Regions from separate parts of the Homo sapiens genome. Here region 1 is linked to region 2. The links come from fine-mapping of genetic effects on gene expression. A gene starts in region 2. The other region holds a variant in brackets. All regions are shown on one strand. Distances are from middle to middle.

Region 1 (8,651 bases), 22 kb before region 2:
AGCTGCCCTCAGCAGCACTTATTTTCTCTAAATACCTTAGTTAGACAACAACCTAAAAAAAAAAGATAAATGTTTAAAATAATACAGTAATGATAAGAATCATTATAGTCACCATTTATTAGGCATCTATTAGATGCCAGATATTTTGCTATATTTAGCTACATAGCTTACTCCTCATAGTAGTCTTGTGAAGCAGGTTTTATTATCCCCATTTTACATATGAGAAAACTACATCAAATCTAAATTAAATAACTTTCCTAAAACTACCCAACTAGAATGGCACAGCCATAATCAAACTCTAGTTGAACTCCTTTCACTATACCACAGGTTAGCAAATTATGACCCTTATGTCAAATCAGTCTTGCTGCCTAATTTTATTTTTAAAAGTCTTATTGGAACATAGATACTCCTTCATTCATGTATTGTCTATGGGTGAGTCTTTATTACAACAGCAGAGATGAGTAGTTGTGACAGAAACTCGATGGCCCTCAAAAGCGAAACAAGCTACTATCAGGACCTCTATAGAAAAAGTTTGCCAACCTCTACACTGTAGTATGCCTTAAGGATTTTTAGAAGATTGAGTATGATAAACACTTTCAAAGAATGATGAAATTCTGAGAAATGGGAGTTAATTGTCATCAATTTCTTTGTTAACAGCTACACTAAGACATTCTGTCCAAAACCAAGTTGGAGAAAGAATAGTTGCGTTTCAGAATACAAGAATTTGAATTTTATTGACTACTTCATCTCTTCCCTAATCCTAACTCGGGCTTCTTTTCACCTCAATTTCTCCCAGGATATCTCACCAAAGTAAACACCTAAGGCAGAAAGTCAGGGGGGAACACAATGAAAAAGTAGTGCTATAGCTTCACAAAACTTTTAATTCCATTTTCATTTCTACCACCTATCATAGAGGCACCCCAAAAAAGAGACATGCCAAACTTCAGGGTTTAATTAGTTTAGGCAAGTCTGGGTGGGTGAATTTATAGACCAGAATAATAGAATTTTAATATGGAAAGCACATAAAGTAATAACCAATTGAGAACCAGGTAACAACAAAGAAGAACCTTCTCTTATCTATCCCACCACATGTTCAACATGATCTGGCCTAAGGCCACATTGTATCTGTATCTATTCACCATCTTTCATATATTCATTAACTTCATGTCTTTTATCGAAGTTACACCTTTGATTTTTTAAAAAGCATGGTTTGGGGAATCAAGCATACTTGGGTTCAAACCCTGCTGTAGCCACCTACTACTTGTATAATCTTAAGCAAGTCAGTAAACCACTTTAAGCCTCAATGCAATATAAATGTAGTTGGTTTTTCATTGAGTATAAAGAAACTGGAATGAGATAGCACATTCAGTGCCAACAAAGCATCTGGCACGTAGTAGGCACTCTGTCAATAGATGGCAAACACCAGCGTTATTCTTACAAAACAGGTGAAACTGCATCACCTCAGTCTCTTCTTGGACCAACATCAGCAGGTGTTAATTGTTGGAGCAAGTGGCATCTCACTACTCAAACTATGGATGATAATCTGCTGGCTGCATACTGTATAGGAAAAGCATTTTTACCTGAGAAAGATAACTTTCAACTTTCTAATCTAGCCTTGTACCAGTTGCAAATAATTGTTATTATATGTTATGCTTTATAGACAGCCTTGTTTTTAATTATGAGGTTTTTATTGGAGTGGCAGGTTTCAGGGTAAGTCTGCCATCTGACTTGCCAGTACTTGTTAAAAGTTTTTATAGTGTGACTCATTTACATATGCATGTGTATGTTTAGGTGCTATTATTAAATTTTGCTGGCATATAGTGAGGAAATTGTGATTCAAATTCGTCCGTATGTACTCCTCCCCCACCATCTGCTCTGCCCCTCCATTTACCAGAAGGCTAGCTTTAGCTACTTGTGCATGTAAAACAGAAGCAAGCAACACTGTGAAAGTGAAAATCTTTTAGGTAGTGTAGTGCAGCGGTGGTCCCCAACCTTTTTGGCACCAGGGACTGGTTTCGTAAAAGTCAATTCTTCTGCAGGTGGGTGGGGGGTGCTCTGGGTTGAAACTGTTCCACGTCAGATCATCAGCCATTAGTTAGATTCTCATAAAGGGCGCACAACCTAGATCCCTTGCGTGTGCAGTTCACAATAGGGTTTGTGCTCCTATGAGAATCTAATGCCACTGCTGATCTGACAGGAGGCGGAACTCAAGCAGTAATGCTTGCTCACCTGCTGCCCACCTTCTGCTGTGCAGCCTGGTTTCTAACAAGCCACAGACCAGTACAAAATTAAAAACACTGGGCATGAGGAAATAATATTCACGCTTTAAATTGTCTTTTCTATTCACTACACTAGGGCCACAGTCTGTGGCCTAGGGGTTGGGGACCCCTGGTGTAGTGAAGAGAAAAGACAATTTAAAGCATGAATATTATTTCCACATGCCCAGTGTTTTTAATTTTGTAGAGGGAATCCCTGCAGGAAAAATCATCTTCACATCCAAGACAGCAAGTGGTATTGATGACAGATCAGTGCTATAAATTGCCTGTGGAAGAAAAGAGAGAGAGAGAAAATGAGTGTACAAACAAAGCTCTTTAAAAGAATAAAGACACTCCCATAAATAAAAAAATGAAAACTCAAAATGGCATGGACAACAATGAATAAACTCCACAGTGATTCAATAATACCAACAGCCAAGCCTTTGTTGAGCACCTTCTACAGATGCACCTCAGGCATGAAGCCCTAGGCAGCACACTGTGGATACAAAGTATAAATAATGACATTTTGTAGATACAGACATTGCTTTTGTGTTTCCAACTGCTCTATTAATTTAAAGTACGGAAAAAGTAGAAGGAATGAAGGGAAGGAAGGGAGGAAAAGGGGAAAGGAGAAAAATGGGAGAATAAGAGAAAAAGAAAAGGTGTCCAGTGTTAGAAGTCACAATTCTATCAGAACTCCAAGTGCCTGGGGCTCACAACCACATGATTCTACCTCCACTGAATCACTTCTGGAATGACTTTTGTAGACTTATGTATAGCTGAATCACAAATGACCATTCTCCCCCCAAAAAAAACCTCATAGCTTAAAACACCCATGAATTCTGAGAATAGCTCTGCTTCACAATCTCTCACAAGACTGCAATCAAGGTGTCTACCAAGGCTGGGGGCCTCATCTGAAATCTCCCTTAGGGAAAGATTTGCTTCCCAGCTAACACAACTGGCTGTTGGTAAGATTCATTTCTTTGAGGGATATTGAACTGAGGGCATCTGTTTACTGCTTGCTGTTGGCCAGAGGCTGCCCTCAGGTCCCTGCCATGTGAGCCTCTCTTCTGTGGCAGCCTGCTTCATCAAAACCAGCAAGAGAGGAAGTACTCTGGCAAGACGGAGGTCGCAATCTTCTGTAAACTTATCAGAGAGGTGACCTCTACTCTACTACCATATTCTATTGGTATGAGCAAGATACTCAAGTGGAGGGGATTACACAAAGCTGTGAATAGTAGAAGGCTGAGAAAACCAAAAGCTATCTTAGGCTAACCTACCGCAACTTGGTGATCTGCTCTCAGTTTCTTTGTTTCATCTTTTATTTTTTTTCATATTGACCTATATTCAAATTACCACAAAATAATCAGGTCTAAATACAAAAAATTTTACTTTTAGCTCTAAGTTTCCTTAAAGAATTTGGTATCAATTACAGTAAGAGCACTGGGTTGATCTAAAGAAAGCATGAGTATCAGGACCAATTCTAGCAATTTACTATGAGATTTTATCCATGAACCTGCTTTTCTCATCTTTAAAATGGGTATAGTTATGCCTTCTCTATTCACCTCATATAACTATTATAAAAACTAATGAGAATAATGTATGTTAGTGTTTTCCAAAGTGCAGTAACAAGCACTGGAGGTACTTGAGATGATTATGGGTGGTATATGGACTGTAGGTGTAACTCTTTTAAGGTATTTGTTTTAGAGTGTATTAGAAAAACAAAACTTGCACAACAAACCCATGATTTTACAAATTATGTGCTTAAGTGAGACTTCAGTAAAGTTTTTAAAAGGGTGAGTGAATTTGAAGAAAAATGTTAAGAAAATAACATAATAGGTGGTCTGAGAATGTGGCATGCATTGTGAAGGTGATATATACAAATGATTGCATAAAAAATAAAATGCCCCACAAATACATTGAATTCTGTTTATTAATTAACGTTCCATGATGCCGGTTTAAGAAGCTAAACAAACATATTCATTGTTACCATAAGAGCAAACCTAACTACACCTGGTGAAAGAAATGACCCCTTGAAAATTCAATTCTAAATTTTTTTGTCCACAAGAATCCATCCCCTGTTATCAATAAGACAGTTATATCTTTTGTTCCCTGATGTGTTTTTCTTTTCCTAGCAATGTATTAATGATAAGTTCCATTTATTAGGGGATCACTGTATGCTAGAATGTACATATACTATTTCAATTAATACTTACCTCATAAGAAAAATAGTATTATTATATCCTGTAATGAGGAAACTAAATCTTAAAGAGGACTAAAGTCACTTACCTAGTAAGTTGCAGAGCTAGACCTGAATTTACATTCAGGTCTACTTAATTGAAGCCTGAGTAAAATCTACTCTGCCAGTAGTTTTAAAGGGCTGAACTTCCATTCACTATGTCCATACCTCATCTTTTTCCACCTCTTACAATTTTACATTGTGTCACTGTAACATTTTTTCTCTGGCATATGGGAAAATTTTTCAACACCAGGGCAAACAAAGAGAATGAGTCATTTATTG[T/C]CAAATACCCAGATAGGAAGTACAAACTAAATAGAGTAAAAGAAGCAATCTCTTCCTAGCCCAAACTCTTACACTGACCCCCTAAGGGCAAAGGAACACAGAAAAGATGAAGTTCAGACACTTCCTAAGGTTCCTGGTATTGGCTACATTTTTCACTACTTCCCCTGTATAACCTCCACGCCAATGATAATTCTACAAGCAAAAAGCTGAAATCTACATTACAAAAGAGGAAGTGTATTGTCTATGTACTCTAAACATGTGGTGAGCTGTTTAACTGCAGAGAAGTCTCTCCTCAAGAAAAGACAACATCTCCCTTCTGTTTTTCAGTATGACATGTGAGTTTTGAGTAAAACCAGATATTTCAAGTTATAAACGTAACTGAAATGTGCTTCTCTTCAAGAAGAACTTTTGGCTTTATGTCTTTAGATCTAACAAAATAGACTTAAAATCGATTGTAAGAAAACTGATTAGTAAAGTTATAGCTCACTACAGTGGGAATTAGAATTCAGGATATTACAGAGAGTGAAATAGTCCCATATAGAAAATATTACTTTCTATACTTAAATTATCCACTATCCATTTTGTAATAGAAAACACATTTTTCCTAATTTAAATCATGTAATATTAATATTACAATACTAACATCTTAGTGATTATAAATACAAGATAAAATAAACTGTCAGAATAAACACATGAAAATGGAAAGTTATAAGAAAATATTTGAAAACAGGTCATCAAAATATTTTCTAATAATGTAAAGATTAAATTTGGAAGAGAACATTTCCCCAAGGCTCTTCTTTTATCACACAGACCTGAAAGATGATGGTTTCCCAAACAGCACTTACAGCAATAGGTGTGGGCCTCAGTGGCACATACCACACCCTAACTACCACAAAGAAAGTCATGGGGGCCAGGACGGAGATCAGATGAGAGGAGCTGAGGAATCATCACAGCATGGACACCAATATTCTCTCTTGGAATCCTTTGAAATGTCGTGGCAAATAGTCCTGCAAAACATCCAAAAAATCTGGATTTGTCAGACAAGTCTCTATGTGATTAGATTCAGACTAAACATTCCATCAGGAATCCCATTAGATAAACTTCAGACCACACATGATCAGGCTCTCCTATTTGATAAAGACGGTAATAGCTTTCTCTCTCTCAAAGCACATTTTCTCTTTTTAATTAATGAATAAATCTACGGAGTGATATCCTGAGACTATTCTGTTTCTCAACCACTGTCTACCAATGGTTTTGTCACCCTTTGGGGAAGGGGATCAAAATATAGTGATTTTCTAATTCTAAGATTCGTTCTGTGTATATTAGCTGCTATTCTTCTAGAAAGAAGACTTTCACCACCGTCCCTTGGATTTTTTTTTTTAATTTTTGTATGGTTTAAATTGCATCATCATTCTTTTTGATGTCCAAATTGTCCCAAATTAAGCCAGTTAGAGAAACAAGTTCATTTTCAAAAATATGGAGATGCTAAATTGTATTATACCATAATCAATCTGTGTTTCATAGTAATATGGTGGTATTGTCACTTATATTTATCATTGTTACAATTATACTTTAGTAATTTATTTGTATCATGCCAAGGAAAGGAGTGGATATCCTTAATCAATTCAAATCTATAATGGCAGAGTTTTCTGAAGTGACACTGCATAAATGTTTCACAAACCATACATAAAGATCAGTCACATTGTTTTATAAATGAATCTGATACTTTGCTGTTAAGTTTCAGGTACTATTTTGAAACTACAGTGCCAAATTAAACACCTTAAAATTGCCTTCATATTTTTTTCTTAACTTTTGATTTTAATTTGTTTTGAAACTTTCACTCCAGCACTGCCTAGCTATATAACCACATTAAGTACAAATTTGAGACTAGGGTGTCAACATTAAAATCCTAAAACTGCCATCATGATGATACTGAAGTTTATGATTCTTTTTTTAAAGTTTCATTTTAACTATGTCTTGTTTAAAACCCTAGCTAGTATTAGCTACTGAATTTTGAAAATTCATTTAACATGTGAATAGCAAAATTAGAAACCTAACACTGCCTTAATTTTGGTACTAAGTTCTGTATTTTGAAACTTTTATTTTAACTCTGCCAAGGTTTTTCTGAGATGAACAATCAGTTTGCAATCAGTTGATGATTATTGAGATAGTGGTTTTATTATTGATTCACTCATATAACAAAAAATATTTTAAATATTTTTATATGTTTTATATGTATAAGAAATCAATATTTTATCAGATGGGAGGAGCTGAGGAATCATTATAGCATGGACACCAATATTATTTCTTGGAATCCTGTGAAATATCCTGACAAATAGTCCTGCAGAACGTCCAAAAAATCTGGATTTGTCAGACAAGTCTCTATGTGATTAGATTCAGAGTAATCTAATCTAGATGAGTCTGAATGAAGATATTGATGAAGATATTGATTTCTTAAAAGCCAGATCTTGTATGTTTTATGATATAGTATAAAACATGGAGCATATTCAATAAAACATAGCCTCTTTTATTTTTATTCAATAAAATATAGCCTCTTTTAATTATTCCTTCACATTTCTTTTTCAATTTATTTCATTTATTTTTCCTTTCCTTACAGCATCAATATTATTTCACATTTCTGTTGTGTGATTAACTTTACAAAAGAAATTGCTATCCCTCCTGGAATGTAAGAGCCATGAACAGGAATCTTTTACTCTTTGTCACGGATGTATTTTGAGGACCGAAAAGAGTGCCTGTGACATAACAGACACTCAATAAATATTTGCTGAATGGCTATTTGATAAATTGGATAAATCAACATAGAACTGTACCCCAAAAAGAGTAACCATGAAAAAAGCAGTCTTCATTCAGAAAGGTCATTATTTTTGGATGTTTTTTCTAATACTAATATTGTTTTGTTCACTTTCTATATTTGGTAAGAATGAATAGAGAGAAAAATTTTCGAGAGACTCTTATCAGCGATATTATGTGATAAACGCCTTCTCCTGGCATTTTTTCTGAGTGCTTTTATCCTGTCCTCTGAGTTTTTTCCAATAGATTCTTCTGCATTTGAATGTGAATTTTATTTATTTCATGAGATATGTTCCTTATATAAAAGCAATCCAGGAAGAGCTGGACCTAGAATTTTTAAAATAAAACAGCTTAACAATGTAAATAAATGTAAAAAAATTCATAATGATTAAATAAATTTAAAGAGAGAGAAGCGGTAGATCAACATGTTATTAATTTTTTTTTTTTTTTTGCTAGAAAGGTTTAGGGCAGGAGTGGCCAAGATGGCCAACTAGAAGCAGTTAATGTGTGTGACTCTCACAGGGCGGAAAGAAAGGGGTGACTAAATATAGCACCTTCAACTGAAACATTAAGGTACTCTCATTGGAAGTAATCAAGGAAACAACTCGACCCACGGAGACCAGAGCAAATCAAGGCAGGAAGACAGCCCACTTGGGAAAGACGTGGAGTCAAGGGAAACTCCCCTTCCCAGGGAAGTGGTAAGTGAATGCGCAACTCTGGGAATCCACACTGCTCTCACAGATCTTTGCAAACCTCAGATCAGGAGATCCCCTTGTGAACTCACTCCATTAGGCCCTTCACACACAGCCACGTGGAGTCTCAGCAGAGCAGCCACTCAGGCATGCATGGAGACCCAAGAGCTTTAGCTACTCCAGCTTTCTGGGTGTCTGGGCAAAAGTAGCTGCGACTTTGGCAAAGCTGGAGGTTAGACCCCCAAACATACCCCAGGAGGTTAGACTCCCATACATACCCCAGAAAAGAGGCTGAATCCAGCGAGATCAGCAGAGAAGGTCTACAGGCCCCACTTCCACAGCGCCTCACAGGATAAGACCCACTGGCTTGGA
Region 2 (8,651 bases):
ATGGCAAGACTTCATCTCTTCAAAAAAGTAAAAATATTAGCCAGTCATGGTGGCCAACACCTGTAGTCCCATCTACTCTGGAGGATGAGGCAGGAGCATCCCTTAAGCCCAGGAATTCGAGGCAGCAGTGACCCTTGCTCACAGTATTGCACTCCAGCCTGGTCGACAAGGTGAATGAAACCTGTCCCTTATAAGAAAAAAAAGAGAGAGAGAGAGATACAAGAGACTGTAGCAATTTCAACCAATTTCAATATCCTAGCCTTATTTTAATCCTTATTCAAATGAATAAATTATTAATAACAGTTTAAAAAGAAATGAAAAGTAAAATGTGTAAAAATTAAGATGCTGTTGTTATGGGTTAAATTCTGTCACCTCTAAATTTTTATATTAAAGTCCTAAGCCCAATACCTCACAATTTGACCGTATTTGGAAATAGAGCCCTTAAAGAAGTGACTAAGTTAAAATAAGGCCATTGGGGTGGGCCCTAATCCAATCTGACTGGTGTCCTCAAAAGAGGAGGAAATTTGGACACACACAAGAGATCCAGGGGCACGTGTGCACAGAGGGATGACTATGTGAAGAGGCAGCAGTAGGATGGCCATGTGCAAGTCAAGAAGAGAAGCCTCAGGAGAAGTTAAAACTCTGAGAAAATAAATATTTGTTGTTTAAGCTACTCAGTCTGTGGTATTCTGTTATGGCAGCCCTAGCAAACTAATACGGATACTAAAATGATGAACAAGTCCACCATTTAATTAATCTTGAAAAATACATGGGAATATAGAAGTGGATATACTGTGGATCACGGAGCAATAAACCCAACTCATAAAATGGAGAAAATCAAACCTCTTGGTGGGAAGGTGTGTTCATAAAAAATTTGAAAAAGCCCCAAAAGTGATTATGAATTTCCTTCTCTTCTCACTTATAAACACTATCTTAGTCCTAATCATATGCAAAAGTGTGCATAAATGAGGGCAAGGTTAGGTCGCTGTTTCTCTTGGCCAGTCAACCAGTTCTATTCATACTTTTTTTTTTTCCAGTCAATGAAAGGGACACTTTATTGAGGCTCCAGGGCCATGGGGCCTGGGCAGGAGGCTGCCCTCCGAGGAAGGAAGAGCCTTATTTGACCTTCTTGGGGTGCAGGTTGTTGGTGTGGCCACACTTCTTCTTGCGGCAATTGACAGCATAGGGGTGCAGGAGAGCATAGCGCTTATGGCAGATCATCTTGTTTCAGCTGTATTTCTAGGTGAGCTGGAAGAGTGAAGGCTCAATAATGCCACCTCGCAGGTGCAGCACCAGGTGCGGGGTGGGCTGTTTCTGGACGTTGTAGTCTGAGAGAGTGCGGCCATCCTCCAGCTGTTTGCTGGCAAATATCAGACGCTGCTTGTCAGGGGGGATACCCTCCTTGTCTTGAATTTTCGCACTGACATTCTCAATGGTGTCACTGGGCTCGACCTCAAGGGTGATGGTCTTGCCCGTGAGGGTCTTCACAAAGATCTGCATCTCTGTGTCTGCAGCTCGGCTGCCTCGCTGAAGAAAAAGAGGATGGCAGATCTGTTCATACTTCTATATCAAGGTCATATACAGACAATTTCACCAACTAGAATATAAAAATATTATTACTAGTGATCTGAGTTATGTGCAACATTGGAATGGATGCCACTCATTCCCTTCTACTGACCTCCAAAATTCTATGCCAATTTACCATTAACTTTCTCTTTCTTTCTTCTCAATTATAAATTCTCCACCTTATTAAAAGACATGGCTCTGACAATTCCAAGTTTCAGCTGCCCACTATGTTCCCATCCACTTCATCTTTTAAATGTGTTTAAAGCATTAACAACAGATTGTGTTTCACCCTAGAGACAGCTGGGTTTCAAGGAGAGGTAAAATGTTTCATAATCTCACTCTATTGTCCAAGACAAATGTGCTATTGTATTACATGTGAAATGTCATCTTTGAAGTCTGGTAAGGGTGTGCTGTGAGGTGAGCCATCTGGAAAACACAGTGTAGACTGAAAAATAATTATAAGCCAGTTTATTACTTTTTTCCAGTTAAGCCTACCATGACAGCTGCTAAAAAAAACACTATGTAGTATAAAGGGTAAAAAGACTCTGAAGTCGCAAAAGTTATACCCACCTCCAACAATGATTAGCTAGTATACAAGTCACTCAAATTCTCTGATCCTTTTGGCTTGTCTGTAAAATTGAAATATGGACACATGCCACAGAGGAGTTTTATGAGTATTAAATGAAACAACAGCTGTAAAGCACTTCGTACAGAGTACACAATAAGTTTGATTTCTCTTCTCGTCTTCTAAATATAGACTATATAATATTCTTTATACAGAGAATATTAGATAAAATCCAATCATATTTGAAAACCAGGTTGAGCAGGTTGGTTTTTCAAAGAAATTCATTGAGCTTCCATAATGTCCTTTCTATTTGACGGGAGAAAAGGGGCTTTGGAAGATCAAGTGTGAAGCTTTAGAATTCTGTCTGGAGCTGGTTAGGACCACCCAGGCCTGAGTATAAGCAAAGCGCTGTCCGTGGTGCTAGTAAGCGCGAATGCCCCCGGCAACGTTTTCCCTACCCAAAGTTGTTTTTCATTCAGTCAACTTGCTTCGCGAAGCTCACACATCTGCCTCGTGCAAGATTCTCAGTCATTTTACTTAGTCATTGGTTCTTTCCCTATCACCATTCTTTATGTCCCCCTCAAAGAAAAACATTATCTTCCATTTCCTTATCAACTCCAAACAGCTTTCATTTTTCTGACATATTTACTACCTAAGAAAATGGCTCAAGAATTGGGTCAGACTATCTTGTCCTAACTTTTCTGATAAGTTTCAGAGAAACTCAAAGGTCAAAACAAGAGCATAAGAGTAAAAGGTAGAGAAATTAAGAAACTGAAGACTAGGAAATGGGGGTTGGATGGGAAAGAAAAAGAAATTGTTATTAATGCTACCCGGTTCCCTTCCCTGTCCAGGTGGATTTCAGCTCTGTTGAGGCTCTGTCAGTAGATTTTCAGCCCTAACCAGCACTTCCATGGTGGTGGCACTTCCACTGCCTTTAAAAGAAAGAGCTTTTTTTAATTCTACAGGGATTTGGGGGATGAGGAGTCAGAGCTAAGGTATCCTAAAAAAAACATGTGAAGACTCTCATTTTGCAATACACAAGCAATTGCCCTCCTGTTAAGACTTTGTCTTCCTCAGCACTCCGAACCAAAATGATTCTGTAAACAAAAATTGTTCACTTTTAGGAGAGGTCCACTTATGCAGTTCCTCACCAAAGTTTTTAGGCAACAAATCCATAACTTGCGGTTCTCTTCCTATCCAATGTAGCATCCGCTGAAATGTTTTAAATATTTTAAGTAATAAATGTTGATTCAAACTCACCTAGGAAGATTAGGAAGGGGAAAAAAAGCACTTGGCATTTAAATCTTCAGAAGAGAATTTAATGACAGGTTCAGCCTGTTTAATGACAAGCCCAGCACCACACCCCTCTCTTATGATGTTTCATTATTACTGCATAAATTTCCTTTATTACTCATGATAAATAAAAATAAGATACCTGACAAAGTGGGTTTAAATAGGTAAGAGTGCAAACAAAGATTTACTGTACAAATATGATGAAACTGGGATCTCAGATTCTTAAAGTATAATTTTTTTTTGTCTTATGTGTGCCAGGTTGCCACTCTCAATCTCGAACTAGTTTTTTTCTCTTTTAAGGGTTGTATCCATAATGCAAAAATGGAAAGAATTAAAAAGCACACGCAAAACATGATTCTCGGGATTTTTCTCTATTTTTATGGTTGACTAATTCAAACAGAAAGACACATCCAAGAGAAAATTGCTAAGTTTGATACAAGTTATGAAACTTGTGAAGCCCAAGTACTGCCTGGGGATGAATTTAACTTGTATGACAGGTGCAGAGCTGTCGCTTTCAGACATCTTAAGAAACACGGAGTTATTTTGAATGACTTTCTCTCGGTCACAAGGGAGCCACCAACGTCTCCACAGTGAAACCAACTGGCTGGCTGAAGGAACAGAAATCCTCTGCTCCGCCTACTGGGGATTAGGAGCTGAGGGCAGTGGTGAACATTCCCAAAATATTAGCCTTGGCTTTACTGGACATCCAGCGAGCAGTGCAGCCAGCATTCCTGGCGGCTCCCTGGCCCAGTCTCTGGCGCATGCGTCCTAGCATCTTTGGGCAGGCTTCCCCGCCCTCGTGACGCGTCGGCCCGGGCCTGGCCTCCCGGCGATCACAGCGGACAGGGGGCGGAGCCTAAGGGGGTGGGGAGACGCCGGCCCCTTGGCCCAGCTGAAAACGGAATTCTTTGCCGGCTGGCTCCCCACTCTGCCAGAGCGAGGCGGGGCAGTGAGGACTCCGCGACGCGTCCGCACCCTGCGGCCAGAGCGGCTTTGAGCTCGGCTGCGTCCGCGCTAGGCGCTTTTTCCCAGAAGCAATCCAGGCGCGCCCGCTGGTTCTTGAGCGCCAGGAAAAGCCCGGAGCTAACGACCGGCCGCTCGGCCACTGCACGGGGCCCCAAGCCGCAGAAGGACGACGGGAGGGTAATGAAGCTGAGCCCAGGTCTCCTAGGAAGGAGAGAGTGCGCCGGAGCAGCGTGGGAAAGAAGGGAAGAGTGTCGTTAAGTTTACGGCCAACGGTGGATTATCCGGGCCGCTGCGCGTCTGGGGGCTGCGGAATGCGCGAGGAGAACAAGGGCATGCCCAGTGGGGGCGGCAGCGATGAGGGTCTGGCCAGCGCCGCGGCGCGGGGACTAGTGGAGAAGGTGCGACAGCTCCTGGAAGCCGGCGCGGATCCCAACGGAGTCAACCGTTTCGGGAGGCGCGCGATCCAGGTAGCTGGGGCCCCAGGGCCTCGCCGGCAGGGGGCGCGCGAACGCGGGGCGCGGCCTCGGCGGATCGGGGCTGGAACCTAGATCGCCGATGTAGATTTGTACAGGAGTCTCCGTTGGCCGGAGGTGTGCATTCCACGCGTAAAACAGGCTTTTACCCAGCAAAAATCCTAAAGAGAGACATTGAAAAACCCACTGTTTAAGCTTTTTTTAGTGGTTTTTGTTCTGCCATCTCATGATCAGAGATGCAAGGAATAGACTGAATTGGGGAGAAAAGGAGAAAAGGAAAGCTTATTTAGGGAAGAAGATTATCTTGTCTGTCTGCTTTCAACGATAAAGATAAGTAAAGTATAAGTTACGCATTCTAGATTGGATTTAAGGAATTCTACAAAATCATAGTACATGGAAAAAATCAATGTAAACTTCTAAGCTACTATATGAAATCTGTTGTATTGTTTTCTCATAGAGGTTAATTGAGAATGAGACGGGATTCCTCAACCACAGTACTTAGTTCCTTTTATGTTAGCAGTGTCTTATGAGTGATGCATAAGAGAAAAAATATATAGTTCTATAGGTTTCTCATTCTTTAATTATCATACTCAGTGCCCAGATTACAAAAATATTCCTGCAGCAACTGTTAGGTCCTTTTTGAATGGCAAAGGATCTTCATAAATAATGCATCTTTATCTTCATTGTTAAAATACACTTATTCAATGTTTAAGTACGAATCCTGCTTTAATTAGTACTGATATTTTTTATTTCTTTTACAATCTCGGACAACTCTTTTGTACTTTACCGTTGGCTAGTGGTCATATTCAGTACTCACCTCACTATCACCCTCTAAAACTAAGCTAATATTAAGGGATCTTGTTAATAGTATAGATTTTAAAGAAGTGTTCATTTCTTTTGAATTCTTAGAATAATGGTATAACAAATGAGGGATTTTTAAAGGAGCAAAAATATTGTAAAGTGCATCTTAAAAACTTAAAATTTTATTAATAATTATAAAAACAAGTTATATATGTAATTCACCATTTTCTGAAATACTAACAGCAGCTATTTTCCCCTTTTTTTCTATGTAAAATATCCTTACATCACTAGTAGATATAACTTATCACGGTTTTTAAGAGATGAAATGAACATTTCTAATATTAATGAAACAAGCCAACAAAACATGAGAAGTATACTGCCTTTCAATTAAATGGTATATTTTAAAGTGCATAAACCCATAACAAATAACTCGATTTTAGACATTTAGTTACCAAAAATTGTCTTATAATTGACTTTAAATATGACAGCAAATGTTTTCATAATGTTCATGTACACAAATGGCTGCTACAGGATTACTCCTGCAAAACATCATTTTTTCTAAGTTATGCATCATCCTGATTGACTGCTAACATCCAAGCTCTATTTATTTATTTATTTATTTTATTTTTTTTGAGATGAGGCCTCACTCTGTCGGACAGGCTGGAGTGCAGTGGCACAATCTCAGCTCACTGCAACCTCTTCCAGGATGCAAGCGATTCTCCTGCCTCAGCCTCCTGAGTTGCTGGGACTACAGGCACGCCCCACCATGCCCAGCTAATTTTTTATTTTTTGTAGTAGAGACGGGATTTCACCATGTTGGCCAGGCTGGTCTCGAACTCCTGACCTCAGGTGATCTGCCTGCTATGGCCTCCCAAAGTGCTGGGATTACAGGCATAAGCCACTGGGCCTGGCCCAAGCTCTTTTTATATAGCAAAATATTTACTGTTTAACATTTTTAAATCTTAGCTATTATAAAATCCTGTAGTATACAAATATAGTTAGTTTTATATTACATTAAAAATATTATAGTCTAAATTTAAAATGATGAACTGTTAAGGAAAAATCATTTATTATAATTTTATAAGATTTTGCATGATTTAATTTACTTTTCCCTTCTAATCTCCAACTTTGGCTCAAATTATCACACTACAAGCCAGTTATGAGCTCAGACACATGACAAACAAAAGCCTTCCGCACGGGATTTGCTATGAGAACTAAATAAATTAAAAAAAAAAGAAAGAAAAAAACTTAGTTGTTTATTTTCTCCCCTAAACCATTACTCCCAACTTCTAACAAACAGTAGTTGACTACCTAATAAATATTTGTAGACCTGGATTATGGAGGAGGGGTCAGCAAGGCAAATAATTTAAAACTTTAAAAGCCGAATAAATTTAACTCTGCCCCTAAATCATTTAACAAAATAGATTCCCATGTTCCAATGGAAATCAAGATTTGTTTTTCCATAATGATGATCATCACTTTACCATCAACTTTCTTGTCTCTGCACGTTTAGAGAATAAAATGGCATTTAATTTGTACTGAGTATAACCTGAAGGTGGGGTGGGAAAGTGGATTGCATCAGCAAATGAAGAAACACCAGACATCAGAGACCTGAACACCTCTGCACTGGGTGAAAACTTTGCAATTAGGTGTTTCTTTAAATGGCTCCACCTGCCTTGCCCCGGCCGGCATCTCCCATACCTGCCCCCACCCTGGCTCTGACCACTCTGCTCTCTCTGGCAGGTCATGATGATGGGCAGCGCCCGCGTGGCGGAGCTGCTGCTGCTCCACGGCGCGGAGCCCAACTGCGCAGACCCTGCCACTCTCACCCGACCGGTGCATGATGCTGCCCGGGAGGGCTTCCTGGACACGCTGGTGGTGCTGCACCGGGCCGGGGCGCGGCTGGACGTGCGCGATGCCTGGGGTCGTCTGCCCGTGGACTTGGCCGAGGAGCGGGGCCACCGCGACGTTGCAGGGTACCTGCGCACAGCCACGGGGGACTGACGCCAGGTTCCCCAGCCGCCCACAACGACTTTATTTTCTTACCCAATTTCCCACCCCCACCCACCTAATTCGATGAAGGCTGCCAACGGGGAGCGGCGGAAAGCCTGTAAGCCTGCAAGCCTGTCTGAGACTCACAGGAAGGAGGAGCCGACCGGGAATAACCTTCCATACATTTTTTTCTTTGTCTTATCTGGCCCTCGACACTCACCATGAAGCGAAACACAGAGAAGCGGATTTCCAGGGATATTTAGGAGTGTGTGACATTCCAGGGGTCGTTTGCTTTTCAGGGTTTTCTGAGGGAAAGTGCATATGAAATCCTTGACTGGACCTGGTGGCTACGAATCTTCCGATGGATGAATCTCCCACTCCAGCGCTGAGTGGGAGAAGGCAGTGATTAGCACTTGGGTGACGGCAGTCGATGCGTTCACTCCAATGTCTGCTGAGGAGTTATGGTGAACCCACAACTTAGGCCCTAGCGGCAGAAAGGAAAACCTGAAGACTGAGGACAAAGTGGAGGAGGGCCGAGGTGGGCTTCAGTAAGTCCCCGGCGGCGCTTTAGTTTGAGCGCATGGCAAGTCACATGCGTAAACGACACTCTCTGGAAGCCCTGGAGACCCTCGCCCAACTCCACCAGATAGCAGAGGGGTAAGAGAGGATGTGCAAGCGACGACAGATGCTAAAATCCCTGGATCACGACGCTGCAGAGCACCTTTGCACAGGATGCTGGCCTTTGCTCTTACTACACTGAGGAGAGATTCCCGCGGGTTCCGCAGGCAGACTACACAGGATGAGGTGGTGGAGTGGAGTGAGAGCAATTGTAACGGTTAACTGTAACGTTTTCTTTCACACACACACACACACACACACACACACATGCTAGGATGCGGAAATCCCCTTATGACTTGCTACTTTTTGATTTTGTGATATTTTGTACTTTTTAGTTGTTCAGCAACTGTCTTATTTAATGGGGAGATTTTAAGTAA

Evidence for each region.
Region 1: its variant is fine-mapped to the expression of CDKN2B in whole blood (TOPMed, PIP above 0.99). The same link has a PIP of 0.9 or more in blood mononuclear cells and monocytes.

Annotation. Positions count from the first base shown.
Region 1 is chr9:22,026,565-22,035,215 of GRCh38, reverse strand. It overlaps CDKN2B-AS1 (CDKN2B and CDKN2A antisense cis and trans regulatory RNA 1), which reads right to left. Exons shown (of 19, transcript NR_003529.4): 2 at 5,622-5,783; 3 at 2,230-2,542. Among named protein-coding and RNA genes, the nearest start is that of CDKN2B, 22 kb to the right of the region's middle. RefSeq lists enhancers at 5,066-5,145, 7,993-8,651. The variant T/C (reference allele first, on the strand shown) is at 4,777.
Region 2 is chr9:22,005,004-22,013,654 of GRCh38, reverse strand. CDKN2B (cyclin dependent kinase inhibitor 2B) reads left to right here and starts at 4,350. Exons shown (of 2, transcript NM_004936.4): 1 at 4,350-4,857; 2 at 7,408-8,651. The coding sequence starts at 4,702. The coding sequence ends at 7,668. All of the region lies in intron 1 of CDKN2B-AS1 (CDKN2B and CDKN2A antisense cis and trans regulatory RNA 1), which reads right to left. It also overlaps the pseudogene UBA52P6. RefSeq lists silencers at 2,391-2,685, 4,809-5,008.